5 separate regions of the Homo sapiens genome follow, and regions 1, 2, 3 and 4 are each linked to region 5. Evidence: fine-mapped expression QTL. A gene starts in region 5. Each other region holds a variant in brackets. All regions are shown on one strand. Distances are between the middles of the regions.

Region 1 (5,000 bases), 32 kb before region 5:
AGCAACAAGTGGTCAAATCAAGCAATTGAAGACCTCAGTACTACAACAAGGAACTCAATTACCTCAACAACCAGAATAAGCCTGGAAGAGGACTCCATGCTCCAGATGAGGACATGGCCCAACCAACACCTCGATTTCAGCCTTGTGAGAATCTGAGAATTGAGGTAAACCATGCCCAGACTCATCACCAACAGAAACTCTTAAATAACAAGCATATGATGTTTTGAGGTGCTGAGTGTATGGTAATTCATTATGCAGCAGTAGAAAACTAACACACTGAGTTTGATTATTACTCTTCAAACACCCTTACAAAGAGAATGACTTTGAGGTAGTAGATAAGCCAAAAATAGATCCACTTACTTTTCCAAACTAATTTAAAATTTGTCTGAAACTTAGGCCCTCCTGTTCTGGCTGAATGTTTCATGAGAACAAACTACACAAAGAAGTTCCATGGTTTGGGACTGCAACTCTAGTTTGCTCTCATAAATGACAGTGCAAGATGGAGACTTAAAACTGATGAAACTGGGTTATGGACAAATTCAAAAACATAAAAAAAAGTTTCTTCCATTTCTCATCGCAACTTAAGGTCAAAATCTTGCCTTTCTCTAGCCATACTAAAAAAAGTTAGGAAAAGGAGAAAAATATTTGCAAGTTCATGCTTCCTAACATGCAAAAAAACTCAAAACGTATGGATCCATGATGGTATTTGTTATTTTAAACATTGGGAACTGGCAAAACCATTTTGAAAATAAAAACGTTTATGTTTTGAATCAAAGAGTACCTAAGAATAAATACAGTACCTAGGAATAAATACAACAAGCTGCAAGACCTCTAGGGAAAAACTATAAAATTTTATGAGAGCCACTAAAACAGACTTAAATAGAAATAATTATCAAATACTTATTTATGTATTTATTAATTTATTTTGGAGACAGTCTCACTCTGTCGCCTAGGCTGGAGTGCAGTGGCGCAATCTCAGCTCACTGCAACCTCTGCCTCCCAAGTTCAAGCAATTCTCCTAACTCACCCTCCTGGATAGCTGAGATTTCAGGCGTGCGCCATCATGCCCAGCTAATTTTTGTATTTTTAGTAGAGACGAAGTTTCACCATGTTGGCCAGGCTGGTCTCAAATTCCTGGCCTCAGGTGATCCACCCACCTTGGCCTTCCAAAGTGCTGGCATTACAGATGTGAGCCACCGCACCCGGCCAGAAATAATTATCAAATTTTTAGACTGGATGACTGAATGTTATAAGTATGTCAACTGCCTCCAAATCAATTTAATAGAACCAGTGCAGTTCCAATAGGTTTTTTTCCATGCAGCTTCACAAGCTAATTGCAAAGTTTATATGAATATGCAAAGGGCAAAGAATAGCCCAGTCTTGAAAAAGAACAAATAAAACTTGCTATACCAAATATTAAGACATATAAGATGACAGTGACTTAAAAACACTGTGAGTATTGTCAAAGCAACAGAAAAATAGATCAGTGAAAAAATAAAGAGCCCAGAACAGACTCACACACATACAGACACTTGCTATACGACACAACTAGCACCACAGATTAGTGGGGAAAATTCAAACTTGTTAAAAAAAAAAAAATGGTGCTGCAATTGGCTGAACATCCACACGGAAGGAAAAAAATGGAAATCAGACCTGATTCTCAAAAAACACAAAATCAATTCTCAGTGAATAAAAACCTGAATTTGAAATACAAACTAAGTTAAACTAAAGACAATAAAAGACAGAATAGAAAAGGATTACTTCAGTAAGACACAAAAAGCTTTAACTATAAAGGGAAAATCCAGTTAATTTGGCAGTACTCTCATTAAGAACTTCTGTTTATTAATACACCATATATATATATACACACATAAGTATATAAAAAGACAAGGCAAAAATTCGGAAGAGATATTGCAATTGTGATCAAATATAACAGAAATATAAAGAATTAGGCCA[G/C]GTGCAGTGGCTCACGCCTGTAATCCCAGCACTTTGGGAGGCCGAGGCGGGTGGATCACGAAGTCAGGAGTTCCAGCCCAGTCTGGCCAAGATGGTGAAACCCCATTTTTACTGAAAATATAAAAATTAGCCTGGCGCAGTGGCGGGCACCTGTAATCCCAGCTACTTGGGAAGCTGAGGAAGGAGAATCGCTTGAACCCGGGAGGCAGAGGTTGCAGTGAGCTGAGATCACGCCACTGCACTCTAGCCTGGGCGACACAACAAGACTCTGTCTCAAAAAATAATTATCTGTAAGAAAAAAACACTCCAACTCAATAAAAAAATGAACAGAAGACTTAAATAGACAATCTCCAAAAGAGGAAATCTAGATAACTAGTAATATGAAATGATGCTCAACTTCAAAAAAAAAATGAATGTTTAATACCAATGTTCGTGACACTGGGAAAGTAAACTGATACATCCGCTTTGGCAAATAATTTGGCATTACTAAGGAAAGCTGATATCACCTAACCCAGCAACCTCCTTGGTTACACACCCTTGAAAAACTCACTCAAAAAATGTGCAATAAAGAAATAGTCACAGAAGTACTGTTCATAAAAGGTCAAAACTAGAAACAAAAGCTTCATAAGAAAAGTGGATAAACTACAGTGTATTCAAAATTGGAATACAGCAATAAAAATGAATGAATGCAGCTACACAGAACAAAATGGACAAATCTCACACTTTTTTGAGCAAAAGCAAGACAGGCAAAAAGCACATACAATGATTTTATTAATATACAGTCCAAAAAAGACAAAACTAAATAATATTATCTAGGTAAACATACACAAATTGTAAAAAGTAAAAAGAAAGGAAAGTATCATGACAGAAATAATGACAACTCTGGCAGTAGGAGAGGTTGTGATTAAGAAGAGGGACTATGGGGAGGGGGAACTTCTAGGGGTGTTGATGAAGTTCTATTTCATGACCTGAAGGTGGTTTAATGGTTCCCTTTATTATTCATTAGACTACATAAACATTTAATGTTCTTCTGTGTATTTTATATGTCACTCCAAATATGTTTCACTCTAAAACTGCATACATTAGTGCCACTATCAAGGACCTGAAGGATGCAGGGGTAGTGATTCTAACACATCCCCATTCAACTTACCTGTTTACCTCATGCAGAAAACAGATGAATTTTGGAGAATGACAGTGCATTATTATAAACTTAACTAGGTAACTCCAATTCTAATTGCTGTACCAGATGTGGTTTCACTGCTTGAGCAAACTAACACATACCCTGGTAACTGGTTTGCAAATATGGATCTGAAAAATGCTTTTTTTCCTCAACGTGTGTTAATAAAAACTGCCAGAAGTAGTTTGTTTTTAGCTAGCAAGATTGAAAGGCAATACACTTTCACTCTTACCTCAGGGTTATATCAACTTTCCAGCCCTACGTCATAATTTAATCCAGAGACCTTGATCAACTTTCCCTTCCACAAGACACCACAACAACCCATTATATTCATGACCTTATGCTAATTGGACCTAGTGAGCAAGAAACTGCAATTACTCTAAGCTTATTGGTAAAACATATGCATGTCAGAAGGTAAGAAATGAGTAAGACAAAAATCCAGGGGTGTCATGGACTGAATATATGCGTCCCCCCCCAAAAAAATTCATATGTTAAAATCCTAACTCCCAAAGTAATAATAGGAATTGAGACCTTTGGGAGGTCTGTCAGTCATGAGGGTGGCGCCGTCTTGAATAGGATTAGTGCTCTTATGAAACAGGAGCTCACTCGCTCTCTCTGCTGTCCACCACATGAAGATACAAAAAGATGGCCGCAAAACAGAAGAGTGCCCTCACTAGACACTGGATCTGCCAGCACCTTGATCTTGGATTTCTCAGCCTCCAGAGCTGTGAGAAATAAATGTTTGATGTTTAAGCCACGCAGTCTTTGGTAATTTCTTAAAGCCTGATGTATTCGTTCATTTTCACGCTGCTGATAAAGATATACCCAAGACTGGGCAATTTACAAAAGAAAGAGGTTTACTGGACTTACAGTTCTGCATGGCTGGGGAGGCCTCACAATTATGGCAGAAGGTAAGGAGGAGCAAGTCACATCTTACACAGATAGCGGCAGACAGAGCTTGTGCAGAGAAACTCCCATTTTAAAACCATCAGATCTCACAAGACCCATTCACTATCATGAGAACAGCATGGGAAAGACCCACACCCAAGATTCAATCATCTCCCACTGGGTCCCTCGCACAACACATAGGAATTATGGGAGCCGCAAGATGAGACTTGGGTAGAGACACAGAGCCAACCCACATCACCTGAACAGACAAGGAGCCTTCCACCTCGGTGAAATTTCTAAGGGTCTAGTGATGTGGTACATGTTGACATATCCCTTCTAATGTGAAGTAAAAGTTGTTTTAGCTAGTCCCTCCTAAAATCAAGACAGACAGAATGTCTAGTAGGCCTCTTTGTATTTGGAAGGCAACATATTCCTTATTTGGGTGTGCTACTCTAGCCCATTTACTGAGTGTATCAGTCAGGGTTTTCTAGAAAAACAGAACCAATAACCAAAAGGGGGTGTGTGTGTGTGTGTGTGTGTGTGTGTGTGTGTGTGTGTATGTATGTATACACATATCTTTATATGTATATATACATGCACAAACACACATATATGTGTATAAATATAGAGATTTATTTTAAGGAACTAGTTCACAAGATTATACAGGCTGACAAGTCTGAAATCTGTAGTGCAGGCAAGAGTTTATGTTTTACTTGAGTCCAAATTCTGTCACAAGAGCAAGCTAGCAAGCTAGAAACTCAAGCAAAATGTCTAGGTTACAGTCTTAAGGCAGAAATACTTCTTTTTCAGGAAACCTCAGTTTCTGCTCCTAAGGCCTTCAACTGATTGGATAAGGCCCACTCATATCATCAAGGGCAATCTCTCAGCATAACTACTTACAGATACTAATCATATCTACAAATTACTTTCATGCAACATCTAGACTAGTGTTTGACCAAACAACTGGACACCACAGACC
Region 2 (5,000 bases), 160 kb before region 5:
ACGCTATTTTAAAAGATGAATTTTAGTCACTGCCTCTCCCTTTGTCATTAACTTGATGAACTATAGCTTTGTTAGGAAGGAAGAAATATACATGAAAGGAATTACACTAAAATGTAAGTTCTACCAAATTTAAAAGGGGGGCAGGGAATCGAGGCACATCAGAGTATGGCAGTGGAGGGGAGGGGCAAACATATGATGCTATTTTTAAAAAAAACAGACATTCAGTAAATTCTCACAGCATTCTTACTTTTGAATGTTTTCCTCCTTTTCTCCACAGTGGAAAAATAAATTTTGTAACCCCAAAACCAACATATAGTAAATGCCATCACCCATTCCTTCAAATCTCTCTCAAATCCACCATTCCTTATTATGTCCCCTGCTCCCATCCTTCCTCTGCAACAGCCAGGAACTCAACTAAATGATTGCAACGGCTTCCTAATTGGTCTTCCTGCTTTCATTCTCATTCTTCCCTCCCAGCTACTTCTCTACACAGCCATTAAAGTGATTTTTAAAAACTCAAGCAAAACATATCATTCACTTACTTGAAACTTCCCAGTGCTTTCTCTCATACTCAGAGTAAGATCCAAAGTCCTTGTCAAAGCGTACCAGGCCGTGTACATGTGGTCCCTGGCTGTCTCCAACTGCACACTCCCTTGTGTTCCTGTAACATGCCAACCTCGAGACCCCTCAGGGCCCTGCATTTGCTGTTCCCTCTGCTTGGTGTTATCTACTCTCCATCTCCACGTGGCTTACTTCTCCAGGGTACGCAGGTTACTGCTGCCTGCCCTAACCACCTTGTCTGAAACAGCATTCTCTTTCCTTTTACCTGTCTTTGTTTGCAACCCCAAAACTTACCAAAACCTAAAATGATATTTTATATTAACTTGTTTATAGGCAGAATCCCAGAAAAAAAGAAATAAATAAGGACAAGGAGCCTTATTAACTTCTGTCTTCTCTGCACTAGAAGAGTGGCAAGTTTACGGTAGGTACTTCATAAAAATGTGTTGGATGAATGAATGGAAGGGTGGGTGAATGAATGAATGAACAGAGTGAGATATTAAAGAACAGGGATCACATCTTACTCACTTTTTTTTTTTGAGAGCTTTACTACTTAGTCTCATTCACTTTTGCACGCACCGAGCCCAAGGTGAATACTGTTCACTCCATGAAAGGAAATGATTGAGAAATGAAAGGGAGAGTCAAGGTAAAAAGTGGCAAAAGAAATACAGTGTGAGAAGGGAACAGAGCTGAAGGCAGAACAGAAAGGCAAGAGCACATATGATTATAACCCAGCAGCTGGAACTAGGCCAGGTCCTTGTCTCACTTGTCTTGGCAGCTCATGTTATAGGCAAATGCACCTCTCATAGCAAGGACTAAATTCATATTTACAAAATGAATAAACTAAATGATCTCTTACCTTAGATGGCCTATGATTAATATCATTTTCATGTTACTGATGTACACATTTACTGGAGGTCTGGCACTTAATTTTGATGAATATTCTATGTTAATACCACATTTTAGATACATATTCAGATTGCTGAATTTAGTCATTTCTATGTACTTTACTCACATATGTCTATGAAGATCGTCTTTACTGCACTACAAGCTCTCGAAAGGTACAAAATCCCCTAAATAACGACCTAATGGTTTCACATAATACACCTACGTGTGCTGCATAATTCTCAAATGCTTTTATAATTCAATAATGGGTAGTGCTAACAGAAAGCAAGAAGCAGTTCAGATATGAGGAAATGATCAGACTCAGAAATCAATCATTGATAGAGGCATTTCTGCAAAGCCTTTTTTGGAATGGCTGTCCATTAATTGAACAGAATATATCACTGTTCCCTGAAGCTGTTCAGCTTCCAAAGTCAGAAGCTGATTCAGTTATAATTTTATGAATATTTTCTCTTCTGTTATGTGGCTTTGCTGCATTGTGTGTGAAATTCTAAGCTAGGCTAAAAGTATTTTAAAAACTAGCCTCTAAACTCTAAACAATGTGTGAAAAGAATACTGATTTAAGTCAGGAGACTTGGGTTCCTAAGATGGTCCTACCATTAATCAGTTGTAAAAGCCTCAGTAAATCACTTGATCTCTTGAGGTCTCAATTTTCCTATCTGTTAAAGTAAGAAAATTTGATTAATCACTAATGTTACCTTCTAGTTCTAACATTTGAATTGCGTAATGACAATAATCCAAAGTGTTGCTTCTTCTGCATAACTAATCTGACTTGGATAATAAGACATAATACAAGTTCAAATTTTATTTTCTTGCAGAGTACATACTCTTTGGAATGTTGAACTATCTGTACCACTTATGCTATTTTTTTCTATTTCTTTTTTTCCCCAGAGTGACATGGAGTTGAATTCACATGTAAGAAAACTCAAAATGAGGTTTAAATGAGCATATATGTGCATAAGGCATAGAACATTCCAACAGAGCGAGACTCCGTCTCATAAAAAAAAAAAA[T/AT]CAGTAAATATTCAACATTATTATTTTGTAAGGATTCTGGTGGTTCAATAGAGGAGAGACTGAAAATGAAGAGGAAGAAAAGTTTTCCAAATTCAAATCATTCTCTTATTTATGAGAGCTAGCTATGAAACTTTGACATTGCTATTGAAATGAGAACTGAACGTTCCATCAATGCAGGAAGTTTTATTAGACAGTGCAGCTCTCGAGTTTTCCTTCTGATTTCCAGAAACCACACAAGACCAGTTCTGTCAGTAAAGGCATCTTGCTGGTGACTATGATCATACTGCAAAGACAGACGAAAAGCTAGTCATAAAGTGTTAACCAAGCAAAGTCGCATCAGATTCTCCAACTGCAATGAAGATATAAAGCCTGCATTATCTCCTTAGGAATATGCTGCACTGATCACTTGCAAATCATAAAATTTTCTTTTACTACTAGATAATTATGAATGAAAAATGATTATTGATGATAATGTCACCTAAAGAGTCACATGATAAAGAGTGTAGACCACTCCCTTTTGCTTCTCATAGAAGAGGGTAAAGCCTTTGGGGACACATAGCTACTCAGTGGCAATACCTGAAACTACCACTCAATACCATACTGCTTTTAAAGAGTAATGTGGTTTAAGAACAGAGCTCCTCAAATTAAGAGTTTCATGGAGCACTGATGTCATTAAGTTGGACTGAAATACGCTGCTGCTATGCCCATTTTGTTAAGTTACTAATTTACTTTTCTAAGTTCCTGACATTTTCTTAAACCTTTGGCATATGATACTGCTTATGTGTTAGCAAGTACCAGCACATAACAGAATAAATCATTAAGTGACAACAAATATTTTTAAGTCAGTCATATCCGATATTTCTTCGTGTTCAAGTATATTCAAGCTCATGCTTTTCCATTTTACATATAAAATTGTTCATGACAAGTTTATGCTCTGAGATCTGAGTCAACCGTGTCCAGTGACCTCTAAGCAGTTACATCTCAAAATATCTACCTACATGTCTGTGGTAGGCAGAATTCTAAGATGGCTCCCAAATTCCCAGCCCCTGGTGTACACACACCTTCTTCCAGTTTTCCAATCAAACATAAAAATAGATGCTGCTGTAAAGGGATTCTGAAGATAAAATTAAGGCCCCAAACTAGTTGATGTTAATATAGAGAGATTATTATTATCCAGGGGAGCCTTTTACATTTTAGTCTAGAGATCAGAGAGACGGAAGTTGGAGACTCAAAGCAAAGGAGGAATCTACAGCAGAGAAATTCTCTATTGCTGGCTTTGAAGATGGGAGATCCTGTGGCAAGGAACAGTGGACAGCCTCCAGGACCTGAGAGCAGCCGCCATGCAGCTGACAGAAAGCACAGACACGGGGACCTCCGTCCTGGAGCCACAGGAAATGAAGTTCGCCACAACCACATGAACTTTGAGAACTGCAAGCTCCAGATGAGAATGCAGCCTGGCCAACACCATGATTTTAGCCTTGTAAGGCCCTGAGCAAAAACCCCAGTCACACCAGGCTTGGAATTCTGATGTACAGAACTAAGAGCTAAAAAATGGGTGATGTCTGAGGCTGCAAAGTCTGTGGTACCTTGATATGTAGCAACAGAAAATGGAAACATGCACCACTCCTCCCGCCCCCTCCTCACACCTTACCCCCAACCCAGCCCCAACATGCCCTGTAGATTATTCACTGCCAATACCATTGCTTTTCAGCAGAGAAGTAAATGGCCTCTTCCTCCTCTTCATTTCGATAAAGCGCAGGGCAACTTGACACTGAGAGGATATCTGGATCAGGGGAAGGCAAGGAGTGTGGTGTGTGTTGCGGGTGGTGAGGGTGCCGAGGGTGTGACGGGTGGGGGGCGTGTGGAGCAAGCTGAGCTCGCTGAGGCTGAGGCGAGGACGGCACAATGCTGCGGCGTGAACGGCACAGGCTGCTGCTTCTGGCTAATGATCCAGGAGGTTTAGCCATGGTCCCTGAAAAACACCAAGAAAGAAACATGCTCATGAAGTCCAGGGTTCCCTTTACAGTCACCACAAATACATACACACAAGAGAACTGATGTCACTAATATGTCACTGTTTCATCTCCCTTTACTGAAGTTACTGTACAGTTATTACCATTCTCTACTACCTACACTAGGAAAGTTAAGAAATAGAAACAAAAAAAAAACAGGTTTAAAAAACAAACAGAAGTGAACATAAACATGAGGCTTTAACAGAAAATCTAAATGTACTAACCAAAAAGGCTTAAAAATTTACCTAAGACAACAAATCTTTAAATTTAAAAACCTGTATTGTATCACAAATTTTTTATGACTGTTAACATAAAGAAAGGACAACAGAATAAAGTAGGCTGCAATGGTATCTCTTGAAATATCACAAGTTCTTTGAACTCAATCAGTTTTAAATCAAGGAAATCACTTAACTACTGTATGCACAGTCTCACAGCTGGTTAGGCAGAGTTCAGAGCAAAACTTGTTTCTTGAACACCCACTACTGTGGAACTAAACAGAAGTCTTAGATCCAACTA
Region 3 (6,392 bases), 570 kb after region 5:
CACCACCATGCCCGGCTAATTTTTTTGTATTTTTAGTAGAGACAGGGTTTCACCATGTTGGCCAGGCTGGTTTTGAACTCCTGGCCTCAAGTGATTCACCCACCTCGACCTCCCAAAATGCTGAGATTACAGGCATGAGCCATTGCACCCAGCCTACATATAAAAATTTTGACCATCTTCCTTCTACGCCCTAGTCCGGGGCACCATCACCTCTTTCTAGGTACCTGTGTTACCTTCCCTGCTTCTCCCGACCTCTACTCCACTCCCGTCCCCTACAATCCACTCTCTACACGACATCTGGAGTACTTTTAAAAATGTAAATCAGATCATCTTACTCCTAAATTTAAAACTTCCCAGCCGGGCGTGATGGCTCATGCCTGTATTCCCAGCACTTTGGGAGGCCAAGGCGGGTGGATCACAAGGTCAGGAGTTCAAGACTAGCCTGGCCAAGATGGTGAAACCCTGTCTCTACTAAAAACTACAAAAATTAGCCAGGCATGGTGGCAGGTGCCTGTAATCCCAGCTACTCGGGAGGCTGAGGCAGGAGAATTGCTTGAACCCGGGTGACAGAGGTTGCAGTGAGCTGAGATGGTGCCACTGCACTCCAATCTGGGCGACAGAGTGAGACTCCATCTCAAAAAAACAAAAACAAAAACAAAAACAAAAACAAAAACAAAAACAAAAACAACTTCCTGGCCGGGTGCCATGGCTCATGCCAGTAATCCCAGCACTTTGGGAGGTTGAGGTGAGCAGATTACCTGAGGTCAGGAGCTCGAGACCAGCTTGGCCAGCATGGTGAAACCCTGTCTCTACCAAAAACACAAAAATTAGCTGAGTGTGGTGGCACATGCCTGTAATCCCAGCTACTGGGGAAGCTGAGGCAGGAGAATTGCTTGAACCTGGGAGGCAGAGGTTGCAGTGAGCAGAGATCGTGCCACTGCACTCCAGCCTTGGTGACAAATCGAGACTCCATCTCAAAAAAAGAAGAAAAAAACACTTCTCATATACATGTCTATTATTTTTGTCATTCCTGAATTGTTTTGCCATCATAATTAGCATTGGAAAATCTTTTAATATAAAAACTCTGTGCTTTTTATTTTTTTATTTCTTATTTTGGAGACATGGTCTCACTCTGTCACCCAGGCTGGAGTACTATGGCACAATCACAGCTCAGTGCAGCCCCGAACTCCTGGGTTCAAGCAAACTTTCTGCCTCAGCCTCCCAAGTAGCTGAGACTTTAGGCATGTGCCACCAGACTTGGCTAATTAAAAAAAATTTTTTGTGAGGACAGGATCTCACTATGTTGCCCAGGCTGCCCTTGAACTCCTGGGCTCAAGCAATCCTCCTGCCTCAGCCTCCCAAAGTGCTGGGATTACAGGTGTGAGCCATCATGCCAAGCTGACTCTGTGCTGTCTTGCAATAAACAAAATAAAAAAAAAAAGGAAGCTGAGGGCACCACCTTCCAGATGCAAGAGATGGGGTGAGTGGTAACACCTAGTAAAGGGGGGAAACCTAGCAAAGCCCTGAGGCCTGCAGCTGAGGAAGAAAAGGGAATGCTAAGAGCCTACTTGGGCCTGAGGAGGAACCTGGGTTATGCAGTAGAAGGACCCCAACTGGCCTAAGAGCCCCTTCAGAGTGTGGCTTCTGCTTACCTTTCCAGCCTACTCTCCCATTCTCACTCCCCTCCCTGTACCTTGTGCTCCAGCTATATCCAAGTGTCCATAGTATACAGATCCAAATATGCTATCTACCCTAATGAACCAGCAGTCCCATTTCTGGGTATAACATCAGAAGGAAACCATATATCAAAGTGATATCTGCATGCCCATGTTCATTGGAGCATTATTCACAATAGCCAAGACATGGAAACAACCTAAGTGTCCACTGATGGATGAATGGATTAAAAAATTGTGATACACATATATATATATAAACACACCATATATATATATATGTATATACCTCACACATACACACACACCACAGTTTTTTAATACATACACAATAGAATGTTATTCTGTTAGGATTTTGGCCAGGCTCAGTGGCTCGCACCTGTAATCCCGGCAATTTGGGAGGCCAAGGCAGGTGGCTCACTTGAGGTCAGGAGTTTGAGACCAGCCTGGCCAACATGGTGAAACCTCGTCTCTACTAAAAATAACAAAAGTTAGCTGAGCCCGATGGTGGGCGGCTGTAATCCCAGCTACTCGGGAGGCTGAGACAGGAGAATCGCTTGAACCCGGGAGGCAGAGGTTGCAGTGAGCCGAGATTGTGCCACTGCATACCAGCCTGGGCAACAGAGCTAGACTCCATCTCATAAAAATATATATATTATTCAGTCATAAAAAAAAAGTGAGGAAATTTTGCCATTTGCAACAACATGGATGCAACTTGAGGCCATTATGCTAAATGAAATAAGTCACACAGAGAAAGGCAAATACTGTGTGATGTCACTTTTATGTAAAATCTATGAAGTTGAACTCATAGAAGCAGAGAATAGAATAGAGGTTGCCAGGGGCTGAGGAGTAGGGAAAATGGAAAGATGTTGGTCAAAATGTACAAACTTTCAGTTATAAGATGAGTAAGTTCTGGAGACTAAATATAAAGCATGGTGGCAATAATTGCCAATACTGTATTGCACACTTGAAATCTGCTAAGACATTAGATCTTAAATATTTTCACCACACATTAAAAAAAGTAAAAGTGTGACGTGAGGGATGTGTTAACTAACTTGATTGTGGTAATCATTTCACAATATGTACATATATCAAATCGTCACATTGTACACGTTAAACTTGTATGGTTTTATTTGTCAAGTATACCTCAATAAAACTGGAAAAAATAAAAATATATGTAAAACCTTAAAAAACAAACTGAAGGGCTGGACGCAGTGACTCACACCTATAATCCCAGACCTTTGGGAGGCCGAGGCAGGTGGATCAACGGAGGTCAGGAGTTCAAGACCAGCCTGGCCAACATGGTGAAACCCTGTCTCTATTAAAATACAAAAATTAACCAGGCATGGCAGCGCATGCCTGTAATCCCAGTTACTCAGGAGGCTGAGGCAGGAGAATCACTTGAACCCAGGAGGCGGAGGTTGCAGTGAGCAGGGACTGTGCCACTGCACTCTGGCCTGGGCGACAGAGCGAGACTCCATCTCAAAAAAAAAAAAAAGTCATTCATACCTGCTTGTCTTGTCACTCATTTCCTTTGCTTAGAAGGACCTTCCCCACCTTTTCTTATTAGTGAGTATTTATTCTACAACTCCCCAGAATAGATTTCCCACATGACAATTTGATGTCTTGATTTTCTGCCCTTGCTCTGAAGCTTGTACAATTGTTAAGACTGTTCTTGGACTCTAAATGACAACTTTGTGATAACATCCTTCAGTACTTTCCCAAATTTTGAAGTTTTCTCTATGCCATGAAAATTAATATTTGTATTTCTGTTGGATGCAAAAAGTTATACTGAACAATATCCTGTTGTGAATAGACCTCAATGATGCAGATGTTAACCCATAACCCAGAAGAGAATCTTAATATACTAGTCATTCCAACAAGTGGCTTCTCCCCCTACTCGCCTCTTTCTCTGGACTCTGGATTGTTCCACAAAGATTAACACTCATTTTCTCTGCTTTTTTTCCATGCACATTAATTTTGTCTTTCTGCAACACTTCTGAAGCAGGTATTATAGAAATATGGGTAATAAACAGAGAGCAAAGCCTTCTAAGTGAATACCTATTTGCTCACAGCCAGTAAACAGCATTCAAGGGGAATGCTTTCTATTTTTTAAAATGAAGGATTATTTACTTTAGCATATCTGCTTTCTTAGAGGAAGACCAGCTGGTTTAAGAAATAAATAAAGGCTATTAATCTTTATGTATTTCATTTACGATTCTCTTCTCGAAGGAGGAG[A/G]CCCATTAATAGAAACCTTTATAAGTACTGTAATATTAAATAAAAGTGCACTAAGTTATCTACTTTTAGAGGAATATTTAGGGTGTAATTTTCAGCCAACTGGAGAGAACCTAACAAAACTCGAGTGCTTAAAAGAAGGCATGTTATCGCTGAAGTTAAACTTGATTTCTTTTATGGCAGAACTGGACAGCTGCTCACACCTGCCTTAACTTTTCTTTTTTCTTCAGCCTAAAGTTATCTATTCCAGGATTCTATGTCATATGGTATAAAGCTTTGGTTTCAATCAGTCACTAACATAGAAGCTTGGATATATTTGGAATTCCTTTTGGGGGAAAAAATTGGCCAAAGCTTTTGATAGCTTTGCTTCTCACACCCAGGCCAAACTGGGCTGGCTCTCTACTGGGACAAGAATGCATATTGGCATCTCATCCTTAAAGCCACAGAGTCACAGCATATTGGTCCAAAAAGGGTTATTACAGCTCATGCGGTCTAACTTTTTTTACTTTTTTTTTTTTTTTTTTTTAGACAGGGTCTCGTTCTGTGGTGCAATCATAGCTCACTGCAGCCTCAAACTCCTGAGCTCAAGTGAACCTCCTGTCACAGTCTTCCAAGTAGCTAGGACTACAGGCATGTACCACCATGCCCAGCTAAGTTTTTTAAGTCACATGTAGAGATGGGAGGTGGGGTCTCGCTGTTTTGCCTAGGCTGGTTTCGAACTCCTGGCCTCAAGCAACCCTCCCACCATGTCCTCCCAAAGTCCTGGGATTTCAGACATGAGTCACCATGCCCAGCCTAACTTATTTATTTTATATTTTTCTTTAACTTTATATTGGCATTCCTTGCTCTCTTTTAGCAAAGTCCTTAATTAATTGACAATATAGAATATTTATATTACAGGTAGGTACCTGTTACAAGATGCCAAGACAAATTAACAAGATTTAGCAGGTCATTCAAGCACTCTCACAACTCTGATACTTGAGAGACAGTCCACCAGACAGATCAACCTTCAATTCCTGTATATTCTCCAAGTTCTATGCCTTAATTTGGTAAAGACATTAGAGAGAAAGGTACCTGGGCCACCTTTCCTCAGCTTCTTCCTCAAATATATTAACCAACTTACAGGTGAGGTGTGTCCTCTGTTTACATTCAGGGTTAATATGAGTACATCTTTTGCAAGCGTGTGATTGAAGATACTGACCACAATGTTAAGCGGTATTAACTCTACACAACTCCACGTGATAAAGTCCTTCTTGAATTTAGCTTCAGGCAATGATAGCATGCATGCTCACTCTTGTCAGAAAGTGAAATCTCTGCAGCCTATCACGCTTCTCTTTTCACCTCTGCTGCCAGAAAGATCTGAACCAAATTTATTGCCAAGTGTTGTAATATGATCATTTCTGGTGCCTAGAATTATTTACTCCTTTTTCTTTTTCTTTTTTTTTTTTTTTTTTTTTTTGAGACCAAGTCTCACTCTGTCGCTGAGGCTGGAGTGCAGTGGTTTGACCTGCATACCACTCTCAGGTTCAAGTGGTTCTCCCACCTCAGCCTCCCAAGTAGCTGGGATCACAGGCACCTGCCACTGTGCCCAGCTAATTTTTGTATTTTTAGTAGAGATGGGGTTTCACTATGTTGGCCAGGCTGGTCTTGAACTCCTGACCTCTAGTGATCTGTCCACCTCGGCCTCCCAAAGTGCTGGGATTACAGGCATGAGCCACCAGGCCCAGCCCTACTCCTCTTTCTTTCTTAAACATTTTATTTGTAAACTGCTTCAAGTAATTTTGGAAGTATGTAAGTTAAACATAAAAAAATTTAATAAAATAGGTAAAAACAATTGGTAGGAAGTAAGGAATAGTCAATCTTCCTAATGAAACTTTTCTGTGCAAAGGCCTTCATGCCAAGTTTCTCATTTGAAGGATGGTGAAAAGGCCTTATGCTTTGTGCTGGGCTTAATCCCCAGCTATACAACTTACTTGTTAAATAACTGTACAAAAGTGACCTCGCTTCCATTTCCTCATTTTTAAGTGGGGATATTAATGCTGTTGTTCCACTGGGGGGTTGTGACAACCCAATGAGAAAACATGGGGAAATACTTTCTAAACAGTGAGTCACTCTAGAAATGTTGGTTGTTATAACTTCCCTGTCTTGCAGGGCTGAGCCACTCTAGTTTAAAGAATACGTGTTTGTGAGGGCTTTTAAAATAAACTCACAAATAAATTTGCAAGTTCTTTGATACTCCTTTCAAGAAGTGGAGCCTAATTCTTCTCTCCTAGGGTGTGGTCTGTAGTCAGTAACTGAGTTTTAGCGAATTCAATGTGGCAGCAGTGACAATGTGCAACCCGTGAGAATAAGTCATTACATGCATTGTGGCTTCCTCCTTGCTCTTGCTCTTAGATCACTCATTGCAGAAGAAGCCAACTGCCATGCCAGAGGGGCACTCAAACAGCTCTGCAAGGAAGTCCCTGTGATAAGCAACTGAAGACT
Region 4 (6,392 bases), 210 kb after region 5:
CTTTAACACCCCACTGTCAACATTAGACAGATCAACCAGACAGAACGTTAACAAGGATATCCAGGAATTGAACTGAACTCAGCTCTGCACCAAGCGGACCTAATAGACATCTACAGAACTCTCCACCCCAAGTCAACAGAATATACATTCTTCTCAGCACCACATCGCACTTATTTCAAAATTGATCACATAGTTGGAAGCAAAGCACTCCTCAGCAAATGTAAAAGAACAGAAATCATAACAAACTGTCTCTCAGACCACAGTGCAATCAAACTAGAAGTCAGGATTAAGAAACTCACTCAGAACAGCTCAACTACATGGAAACTGAACAACCTGCTCCTGAGTGACTACTGGGTACATAACGAAATGAAGGCAGAAATAAAGATGTTCTTTGAAACCAATGAGAAAAAAGGCACAACATACCAGAATCTCTGGAACACATTCAAAGCAGTATGTAGAAGGAAATTTATGGAACTAAATGCCCACAAGAGAAAGCAGGAAAGATCTAAAATTGACACCCTAACATCACAATTAAAAGAACTAGAGAAGCAAGAGCAAACACATTCAAAAGCTAGCCGAAGGCAAGAAATAACTAAGATCAGAGAAGAACTGAAGGAGATAGAGACACAAAAAACCCTTCAAAAAACCAATGAATCCAGGAGTTGGTTTTTTGAAAAGATCAACAAAATTGATAGACCGCTAGCAAGACTAATAAAGAAGAAAAGAGAGAAGAATCAAATAGACACAATAAAAAATGATAAAGGGGATATGACCACTGATCCCACAGAAATACAAACTACCATCAGAGAATACTATAAACACCTCTACACAAATAAACTAGAAAAATCTAGAAGAAATGGATAAATTCCTTGACACATACACCCTCCCAAGACTAAACCAGGAAGAAGTTGAATCTCTGAATAGACCAATAACAGGCTCTGGCCGGGTGCGGTGGCTCACGCCTGTAATCCCAGCTCTCAGGGAGGCAAGAGGTGGGAGGATAGCTTGAGCCCAGGAGTTCGAGACCTGCCTGGGAAATACAGTGAGACCCCGTTCTCCACAAAAAGGAAAAACAAAAAAATAACAGGCTCTGAAATTGAGGCAATAATTAATAGCTTACCAACCAAAAAAAAGTCCAGGACCAGATGGATTCACAGCCAAATTCTACCAGAGGTACAAAGAGGAGCTGGTACCATTCTTTCTGAAACTATTCCAATCATTAGAAAAAGAGGGAATCCTCCCTAACTCATTTTATAAGGCCAGTATCATCCTGATACCAAAGCCTGGCAGAGACACAACAAAAAAAGAGAATTTTGGACCAATATCCCTGATCAACATCAATGCAAACATCCTCAAGAAAATACTGGCAAACCGAATCCAGCAGCACATCAAAAAGCTTATCCACCATGATCTAGTGGGCTTCATCCCTGGGATGCAAGGCTGGTTAAACACATGCAAATCAATAAATGTAATCCAGCATATAAACAGAACCAATGACAAAAACCACAGGATTATCCCAATAGATGCAGAAAAGGCGTTGGACAAAATTCAACAACACTTCATGCTAAAAACTCTCAATAAATTACGTATTGATGGGACATATCTCAAAATAATAAGAGCTATCTATGACAAACCCACAGCCAATATCATACTGAATGGACAAAAACTGGAAGAATTCCCTTTGAAAACTGGCACAAGAGAGGGATGCCCTCTCTCACCACTCCTATTCAACATAGCGTTGAAAGTTCTGGCCATGGCAATCAGGCAGGAGAAGGAAATAAAGGGTATTCAATTAGGAAAAGAGGAAGTCAAATTGTCCCTGTTTGCAGATGTCATGATTGTATATCTAGAAAACCCCATCGTCTCAGCCCAAAATCTCCTTAAGCTGATAAGCAACTTCAGCAAAGGCTCAGGATACAAAATCAATGTGCAAAAATCACAAACATTCTTATACACCAATAACAGATAAACAGCCAAATCATGAGTGAACTCCCATTTACAATTGCTACAAAGAGAATAAAATACCTAGGAATCCAACTTACAAGGGATGTGAAGGACCTCTTGAAGGAGAACTACAAACCACTGCTCAATGAAATAAAAGAGGATACAAACAAATGGGAGAACATTCCATGCTCATGGGTAGGAAGAATCAATATCGTGAAAATGGCCATACTGCCCAAAGTAATTTATAGATTCAATGCCATCCCCATCAAGCTACCACTGACTTTCTTCACAGAATTGGAAAATACTACCATAAAGTTTGCATGGAACCAAAAAAGAGCCCGCAGTGCCAAGACAATACTAAGCCAAAAGAACAAAGCCGAAGGCATCACGCTACCTGACTTCAAACTATACTACAAGGCTACAGTAACCAAAACAGCATGGTACTCGTACCAAAACAGAGATATAGACCAATGGAACAGAACAGAGCCCTCAGAAATAATGCCACATATCTACAACTATCTGATCTTTGACAAACCTGAGAAAAACCAGCAATGGGGAAAGGATTCCCTATTTAATAAATGGTGCTGGGAAAACTGGCTAACCATATGTAGAGAGCTGAAACTGGATCCCTTCCTTACACCTTATATAAAAATTAATTCAAGATGGATTATAAAGACTTAAATGTGAGACCTAAAACCATAAAAACCCTAGAAGAAAACCTAGGTAATACCATTCAGGACATAGGCATGGGCAAGGACTTCATGTCTAAAACGCCAAAAGCAATGGCAACAAAAGCCAAAATTGACAAATGGGATCTAATTAAACAAAAGAGCTTCTGCACAGCAAAAGAAACTACCATCAGAGTGAACAGGCAACCTACAGAATGGGAGAAAATTTTTGCAATCTACTCATCTGACAAAGGGCTAATATCCAGAATCTACAATGAACTCAAATAAATTTACAAGAAAAAAACAATCAACCCCATCAACAAGTGGGCGAAGGATATGAACAGACACTTCTCCAAAGAAGACATTTATACAGCCAAAAGACACGTGAAAAAATGCTCATCATCACTGGCCATCAGAGAAATGCAAATCAAAACCACAATGAGATACCATCTCACACCAGTTAGAATGAGGATCATTAAAAAGTCAGGAAACAACAGGTGCTGGAGAGGATGAGGAGAAATAGGAACACTTTTACACTGTTGGTGGGACTGTAAACTAGTTCAACCATTGTGGAAGTCAGTGTGGCGATTCCTCAGGGATCTAGAACTAGAAATACCATTTGACCCAGCCATTCCATTACGGGGTATATACTCAAAGGATTATAAATCATGCTGCTATAAAGACACATGCACACGTATGTTTTCTGCGGCACTATTCACAATAGCAAAGACTTGGAACCAACCCAAATGTCCAACAATGGTAG[T/A]CTGGATTAAGAAAATGTGGCACATATACACCATGGAATACTATGCAGCCATAAAAAATGATGAGTTCATGTCCTTTGTAGGGATGCGGATGAAGCTGGAAACCATCATTCTCAGCAAACTATCGCAAGGACAAAAAACCAAACACCGCATGTTCTCACTCATAGGTGGGAATTGAACAATGAGAATGCATGGACACAGGAAGGAGAATATCACACACTGGGGCCTGTTGTGGGGTTGGGGGAGAGGGGAGGGATAGCATTAGGAGATATACCTAATGTTAAATGACGAGTTAATGGGTGCAGCACACCTACATGGCACATGTATACATATGTAACAAACCTGCACGTTGTGCACATGTACCCTAAAACTTAAAGTATAATAAAAAAAAAAAAAGTTAGAACGTTGAGATATTATGCCACAACATGGATGAAACTTGAAAACAGTAGGCTAAGTAAAAGAAACCAGTCATTGGTTATACAATAAACATATGTGGTATAATTTCATTTCTATGAAATGTCTAGCACAGGCAAATTCATAGAGACAAAAAGTAGATTAGTGGTTGCCTAGGGCTGCATGGGGAAGAGAATGAAGGGTGACTACAAATGGGCATAAGGTTTCTTTTTTGGGTAATAAAAATGTTCTAAAAATGTGGTGATGTTGCACAATTCTGTAAATATACTGAAAACCACTTGAGTTGTATATTTTAAATGGCTGAAATTTATGCTGTAAAAATTCTAGCTCAATAAAGCTGTCAAAAATGCTGGGGGTATTGGGAAAAAAAAGAATCTAGTGGAGGAGATTATGATGACAGAAACGCTATCATATTTGAGGAAGACATTAATGAACTGATAGCTAACAGCTGATAAAATATATGCTATAATACCAAAAAAGTTTCCTAAAATTGCAAACACTATATTGACACTATAAATATAAATAGTATTTGTTTAAAAAAAATTAGCAAAGAATCTACAATTTTAGCCTAATTACCTAACAGCACAATTTTAGCCTAATTACATAAATAAGGAATCATACTACAAGGGAAACTGACAAACATAAAAGACAGGAAAAGGAGAAAAAACTGTAAATACATGAGTAACAGAAAAATAAAAATATTAGAAATGTAGAAACTGTAATTAAGGAAATAATTATTTAAAATATTCGTAATTTTAAAAAGATCTCAGCATGAGTAATAAAAGATCAATTAAGGAACTGTCCTCAAAGAAACAATGTTACGAGCTATTAAGGAGAAAACATAATAAGAATAAGAATAAGAATATAAAAATTACATAAAGTTTCAGCTTTTAAGTGCTAGAAAAGGGAAGAGTTTGGGAGAAACTTTTAGTAAGCTAAGAGAAATAAAGCCATCATCATAAAGGCAGTTTTTTACTAACCTGTCTCTTCAACATTCAAAGTAAACTGTTTACAATTCCAAAAGTTCTGAAATAATTTCTAACCAAGTTTTACTTTAGCAAATGTAAAGAGATAAAATGTGAAACCTTCATTCATTGATTCATTTATTCATTCATTCAGTAAATATTTATTGAGCAGATTGTGCTAAGCACTGTTCTACTTGGGGACAGTGCAGTCAAAGACAGGATTAACTTACAGCTGACCTGTGGTAGTGTTATGCTAATCTCCAGAAATACCTGGAAGTCTGGTAGTGACCCTTGGCCAAGATGCAGTGACATGTACTAACTAGTCAGTTGTAATATGCTATTTTTATGACCAAAACTAACCTGGAGGCATTCCACAACTGTTTATTTACATTGTTTATTGAAAATGTAGATTGGTGGTTTGCATCTGATATAACCAGTTGGGTAGAAACGACCCCTCAAAAAACTTGTGTCTTGGCTCTCTAGGCCAAGATATCTCACATGTATCTTGATGGTTTATAACTGAAAATCTAAACACATCCTGTGTAACTGAGAAAGGGCCCTGAGAGCTCTGTCAGAAGTGTGGATCTCTTTGTGTTTGCAGGTTCATTCTTTCTCTTGCTGAAAGAAAGCCACATGTGGGTGTACCCTGAGAAGTCTTGTGAGTGTTGTCAATTATTTGACCCTGTGTGACTGCTGAAGCAGGGAACAAAACAGAATTGAAAAGCTCTTGCCCCTGTGGAGCTTCCTTTGTAATGGAAAAAGGCAAGCAATAAGCAAAATAAATCAATAGTATGTTACATACGTCATGATAGATGCTGTGGAGGAAAACAAAGCTGGAAAGGGTATAAGGAGTTCCAAGCAGAAGAGCCAGTGAAACCTTTACTAAGAAGGTGATATTTAAGCAAAGACACAAGTAGTGAGGGAACATGCAGGTAGACATTTAGGGAAAAATCATTGCCAGCAGATAAAACAAAGAGCAAAGACACTCAGCTGGGAGGAAGCCAGGGGTAAGCAAGGAGGCTAAAGTAGCTGGAGTAAGACCAATCAGAAGGACAGTAACCAGAGATGAACTCAGACAGGTAATGGGATATCAAATCAAATGGGCTTTTATTTAATAAGTAGAATAAGATGGGAAGCCACTGGATAGCAGAAGAGTGGCTTATTCTGAATTGCATTTAAAGGCCTTCCTCCGGAAGCTGTGCTAAGAACAGATTCTAGGTGGGAAAAGGTAGAAGTAGGAAGACCAGTTGGGAAGCTTGGATATAGCAGTGGTGGTGACAAAAACTGGCTGTATTCTGGATATATTTCAAAGATAAATATAATAGGATTACATGTGAAGTCCAAGAGAAAGAGTGAAATCAAACGTATGAATTAAAATAATGAATTCCAAGTGTCTACTGAAGGGTTCCACTTGAATATTTGATATGTCTCTGTAACTTAACTCAGCTTATCACCTTCACTAACAGCCCTGTTCCTCCTCCTGTATCCTCTATCTCATGTCAAGTAACTTCTAGCCAATTACACAACCTAGATACTTGAAGGTGATCATTATCTTTTCTTTTTCTCATAGACCCCGTATCTGATCAGTTCCCAAATCATCCTTAAAATCTCTTTCAAATCCATCAAATTGTTTCCATTTC
Region 5 (5,000 bases):
ATCACAACTTTAATCAGGAGACAAAGAGACCAATTCTTCTCTCAGAATGCTTTCAAAAATTTTCAATTTTCAAAATTCACGTGACGTTTAGTTCTCTTATTACTGATGCTCTACTCCATCTCTATCCATTAACGCTGCCTACAATATGATACCACACCACAGTATTTTGTAAATTCAGTCTACGGTTTTACTTCCTGAAGTGTACACTAATGCTAATAAATTAGGTTCTAGGCTTTGCATAACATTTACAAATAGAACCATAAAAGAAAGCACTATTCATACACTCTTAAGAATGGGAAAGAGCCCTATAGAGGCCATATAGTTCAAAGAAATTTTCAATATTTTCTAACTTCATCATAGATTTTCAGTTTACCTTTACCAAGATATGGGTGCTATTGACTGTATTTACATAAACTTATTAAAATAACAATTTAATTTGTATATTGTGTAGTTTTATGATTTAAACTTTAAGTGGAAACGTTTAACTTGTTAAAAATCAATATTCTGACAAAAGGAAAGTAAAAGAACGTTAGAAATAATTCCAGGGTATTCTTCTAGCAAACTTATTTTAAAGCCCTATGGCACAAACTCATTTTGTGTGATACATCGGATTTTTTTCCAATAAGAATCACCTTTTTCCCCCATGCCTTAAATAAGTATAGAGAAATTTAAGTCTTAAAAGGGATTGTAAATGGCTTATTAAAATTCCATCTGACCAATTTTCTTGATGTGATCTACACAGTATAAAATATACTTATTAGCAGTCAATAAATACTAAATTTTCTGAATTGCTTGCCTTTTTACCAATTACTTTTTCACAGAGCATTAGCCAATTATGTATTAACCACATTTTTCTGCTCGAGAAACCTAGAACCACTTATACCTTCTAGAAGCCTAAATATTCCTGCTCCTTCCCTTCCTGCATGAGGCATTAAATCTTCAAATTATAGTCTTATTTATCAACTTTCCTAATAATCACTATTCTTCACTATACTGTTACTTGCCACATTTTTATTTGGAGAATAAATACTATTCAAGCATAAAGCTGTCTGACCTATCTTCTCACTCAAACTGTACTATGCTCCTAATACTGATTATTCTATAATCACTTTATCCCAGTTACCCAATTGGTAGGTTTGATGTATCAAGTTCCATTTAATAGGGCTTGATATGCTTCAGGGTAAAGTTAAACATGCTGACCATTATGTTCTATACTCTACATCCTCCAAAGCTTTTAAAGTTTACCAACATCCTTCTTCTCTCTAGAATAGTAAATATCCTATCATAGAAATCAGAGAAACTGCTTGGCTTTAAAGAATACAGTTCCTGAGCACTTGTCAGAGAAGCTGTTAGTAACTTCCAGACGCCCGCAGGACTATCATTTTGGTTAAATTAATCACGGGTCATCTTCTGCCACTTTAAACTTTTTAGTCTTACAATTATTGTAGGAAATCTACAGATCTACTTTAAAAATAAGTGAAATACTAAAAAAAAAAAAAAAAACCATTATTTTAGCTCCATTACTTTTCCCAAAGAAATCATTTCAGGGTCCTTATATAATAACTTTTACTTAAACCACAACTGATCAGTTGTACATAACACCGGAAGGCTTTAAAAAGGATACAATTCTGCACTTAACCTTACAAAACACGTTTCCAAGTTTTCAATTATGAGATCGTTCTATATATTAAAAAAAAGGTGCTAGTGCAGTCTATCAGAACTGTGCTGCCAGCTGCAAGCCCCGAGTATGCTGCACTTTGCAAATTTTAGGTATAATTTCTGGTTACCTGCTGAGGTTTCTACACCCTTTGTCACCCAGTGATGCTCCCACCACCAAACACTTTCCATCACCACTTAAAACGGCCTCCTTCCACCCCGCAAAAAATGCACTGTAAACTTAGGCATTTCTGCATACTAACACGGAACCACTAATATCACTAGGTATTATGGCTCTCAAAGAATCCCCTTTAGCAGGCTCCCCTGGGACGCTGTGCTCAAGCGGAGCTTTGAACCGGTGAGACTCGCTGCCAGCTGCCTTTGCAAAAGCAGCACCAGAGGTAGACTCAATACCGCAATGCTGCTGCTGACTTTTTCTAGCAGCCTCAAAAAAAAAAAAAAAAAAAAAATCAGCCCAGTCCCCTGCAGACCCTGCTGGCACTTCTGCAGCACGAAAGAGAAACCACCGCATTGCTCAGCTTGGAAGATCGGAGAGCCCGACTGAAGGGAGGGGAATCAGTGCCGTCGAGAGGCTCGGCGAGGGCGGGGTGTCGGGGTGAAAAGGAAAGACGTCCGGAGTGCAGGGGACCGCGACGAAGCAGCAGGCAGGGCTCCGCATCGCGCCCTGGCCGGAGCCGCGGAATAGCGGACGTCCGGCGGAGATGCTGACCTCTGCACGGGTTGGGGGTCCCATCGCTGCCGGCCGAGCCCCGCCCGCCGCCCCCCGGCCCCTCACCTGTCATGAGCGCCGGGCTATCGCCGGCCGCCGCGGCGGGAGAGGAGGCGGCAGTTGCGGCAGAGCCAGTCGCCCGCCGCCCGCGGAGGTGCCGGGGCACAAGCTCGCATCCGTCCGCCGCTCCGGCTACCAGCAGCCCGAGCACCAGCAACGCAGCCCAGCGCCGCCGCCGCAGCAGCCAGCCCCACGCTGGGCCAGGAGTCGAGGCGGGATGAAGGCGCCGAGGAGAAGCCGGGTGAAAGCGCAGCGGCGCCCCGGCCGCCTGCAGCTCGCCGGCTCCGCGAGGCGCCACCACCGCCGCCGGCGACTCCTCCGGCCGCCCCCGCCGCCTCAGACACGGGCTCCCGCCGGGCGCCAGCCTGGTCCCATCGGCACCGGCGGCCTCCGGAGCTCTGATCCCGGCTGCGTTCATTGGTTCCGGTTATTTAAAAAAAAAAAAAAAAAAGGTGGGGGGTAGAAAGGTACGGCGTCTTCAGGCGGTGCACGACACCCGCGCTGCTGCTGCGGCGAGACCGGGATCCGCTGCTCTGGCGCCGCCAAACACCAACCCCAGCTCCCGCGCCGCCGCCGCCGCGGCGCATCCCCCCGCCCCCTCCGGCCCGCGCTGGTCGTAGTACCACGCTCCGCCGGGACGCCTCCCTCCCCTCGCACATTCGCTCGCATACCAATCCCCCGCCTCCCTCAGGCTCTCCACGGCGCAGGCGCGGCGCTGCTGTACTGCGCGTGCGCGGCATCCCAGCCCCGCCCCGGAGGCGTTCCTAGACGGACGGTAGTACCGTGGGGCGGCTGATAACGCTTTAGCGAGCCGCGAAGATAGGAGGCGGGGAAGAAGGGGGACGTGTACCTCTCCCTCATTCACGGTACCACCGCGAGGGGGAGTGGGGGGCTACAAGGGGACGGAGAGAAGAGTCCAGACGTCCCACATCCTGAGGGCGAGTTTCAGCCTCGTAGAGGGCAGCGAAAGTAATTGCATGGATCAGGAAAATCTTGCAATCGGAAAACAGCAGCGTCCCCGTAATTTCAATATAGGTGGGGCTTACAAGTGGCTGGCTGTTTAGACGCGGTTAGCATAGCTTAGCGTTTTATTTACTTGCCAAACATTTCACAAAGCGCGTGCTATGTGTGAGTGTACCAGGCATTGCTCTAACCGTTTTACACATTTACATGCTATAACTCCAAAATTATCGTTACCCCCTTTTACGAATGAAGAGACTAAGACCTAGAAATGTGAAGTAAGTTGTCCCCAATATCCCACAGCTAATTCATGGGAAATGAGCGAGATTTAGCAGCCACTGAAAAGGCCTATTTAAGAGAATTTACTTTAGCCTCTGACTCTCCTAGGTACATTTACCTGAACTCATCACCTTCCCACCCCCATCCCATCGACTCTGTGCTGTATCCTGAACCGGCTGACAGAACAATGATGTAGACTTGACTTGTTTTCGCCAACCTGGAATGAAGCAAAGCTCTTGTGCACCCAAGATCTGCTCTCTGTTGTAAATCCTGTTCAGACCTGGTCTAATTGGTTTGAATAAATAAAGAACCGGAATCTTTCTCATCCAAACTAGTTGCCAGCATATTTTTAAGGCCACCTCCCTTCAAATTTAAAAGGAAGTGTTGAATGTACTGTCACTATAAATTAAAAGCCCTGGAAATTCACACGCAAGGAGGCATTCTTTCTCCCAGGGGCACAAAATTGTTTAAAATTTGCAGATAGGGTTATTAAACACGAAGATCCTTTTGCTATTGGGTTTTGTTGGTTTCATTCTGCTTATTGGTTTGTTTGCTTGCTTTCTCAAGCCAAGAAGATACTCAAATTACATTCTCCTAAAGTATTTCTTAGGTAGCCTGGCCAAGATAACCACAAATATCGTTTATTGTGGAAGGGCAGATGCACACTTTAGAAAAGAATCAAGGATGTCTTTGAGGCTAAGTCAATCTATCAACAGTTATTTCTCAGCAGACTTCTTGTGGGCATAGTGTTCAGGTGGCAATTCTTTATAGGGCAACCGGGAGATTATATTTCCCCTGCTGAAAGGCACAGCGATGAAGTCACACCAGAGTGCTGAGTGCCCACCAGAGAAGATAATTCTGCTAGGGGACCAGAACAATATAAATAACAAGCTTGTTCCTGCTCTCCAGGAGGCATTTCATTTATTAAATGTTTACTGAGTACCTAGTATGTGCCAGGCAGAGTACTGAGTGGTGAGGGTTAGGCAAGAGAGACACTTGAAAAAGGCAATTAAGTCAGCAGTCAGGGCTATGAGATAAACAGCACAGTCCCATGACTAAGGCATCTTACAATCTTTTTAAGGAGATAAAATGTACACCCATTAAACAATTAGAGGCTAATACAAAGTAGTAATCAGTTGCTAAATGGTGTAGTGCAAACTGTTACAGTAGTAACAGTATAAAACCACGAACAAATTAACAAATCACAGGGGCCAGGATTCTTTAAACAAAGATGATTTAGTATTTTTTTTTCTTCTTTTAAAGATAGGGAGGGTATTGACATTGAGAGTGTATTGGACTGGAGTTTTAAGTGTTT

Direction of the effects. Positions count from the first base shown, and alleles are read on the strand shown. Sizes are in standard deviations (SD) of each study's normalised expression. Not every link is listed here.
For the expression in Th2 cells of the gene that starts at base 2,981 in region 5, allele AT in region 2 goes with a lower level than allele T (large effect, 0.81 SD a copy in Schmiedel 2018).

What was found. PIP is the estimated chance that this variant, and not a neighbour inherited with it, causes the effect. A credible set is the group of variants that fine-mapping cannot tell apart.
Region 1: its variant is the best candidate, but not a certain one, in a credible set for the expression of STIM2 in CD4 T cells (BLUEPRINT, PIP 0.81).
Region 2: its variant is the best candidate, but not a certain one, in a credible set for the expression of STIM2 in Th2 cells (Schmiedel 2018, PIP 0.58).
Region 3: its variant is the best candidate, but not a certain one, in a credible set for the expression of STIM2 in aorta (GTEx, PIP 0.81).
Region 4: its variant is the best candidate, but not a certain one, in a credible set for the expression of STIM2 in whole blood (TOPMed, PIP 0.78).

The regions. Positions count from the first base shown.
Region 1 is chr4:26,891,138-26,896,137 of GRCh38, reverse strand. All of the region lies in intron 1 of STIM2 (stromal interaction molecule 2), which reads right to left. Among named protein-coding and RNA genes, the nearest start is that of STIM2, 33 kb to the right of the region's middle. The variant G/C (reference allele first, on the strand shown) is at 1,957.
Region 2 is chr4:27,017,155-27,022,154 of GRCh38, reverse strand. It overlaps STIM2 (stromal interaction molecule 2), which reads right to left. Exons shown (of 12, transcript NM_020860.4): 11 at 4,171-4,444. Among named protein-coding and RNA genes, the nearest start is that of STIM2, 160 kb to the right of the region's middle. RefSeq lists enhancers at 3,837-4,336, 4,337-4,838. The variant T/AT (reference allele first, on the strand shown) is at 2,473.
Region 3 is chr4:26,288,360-26,294,751 of GRCh38, reverse strand. It overlaps LOC105374542 (a long non-coding RNA gene), which reads left to right. Exons shown (of 2, transcript XR_925508.3): 2 at 6,303-6,392. It also overlaps a transcript of RBPJ not described here. Among named protein-coding and RNA genes, the nearest start is that of RBPJ, 29 kb to the left of the region's middle. RefSeq lists a silencer at 5,838-5,887 and an enhancer at 6,058-6,107. The variant A/G (reference allele first, on the strand shown) is at 3,912.
Region 4 is chr4:26,647,089-26,653,480 of GRCh38, reverse strand. All of the region lies in intron 7 of TBC1D19 (TBC1 domain family member 19), which reads right to left. Among named protein-coding and RNA genes, the nearest start is that of TBC1D19, 66 kb to the right of the region's middle. The variant T/A (reference allele first, on the strand shown) is at 3,376.
Region 5 is chr4:26,858,822-26,863,821 of GRCh38, reverse strand. It overlaps STIM2 (stromal interaction molecule 2), which reads right to left and starts at 2,981. Exons shown (of 12, transcript NM_020860.4): 1 at 2,453-2,981. The coding sequence starts at 2,603. It overlaps STIM2-AS1 (STIM2 antisense RNA 1), which reads left to right and starts at 3,223. Exons shown (of 2, transcript NR_134674.1): 1 at 3,223-3,312; 2 at 3,794-4,198. It also overlaps a transcript of TBC1D19 not described here. RefSeq lists silencers at 2,285-2,854, 2,865-3,234 and an enhancer at 3,325-3,424.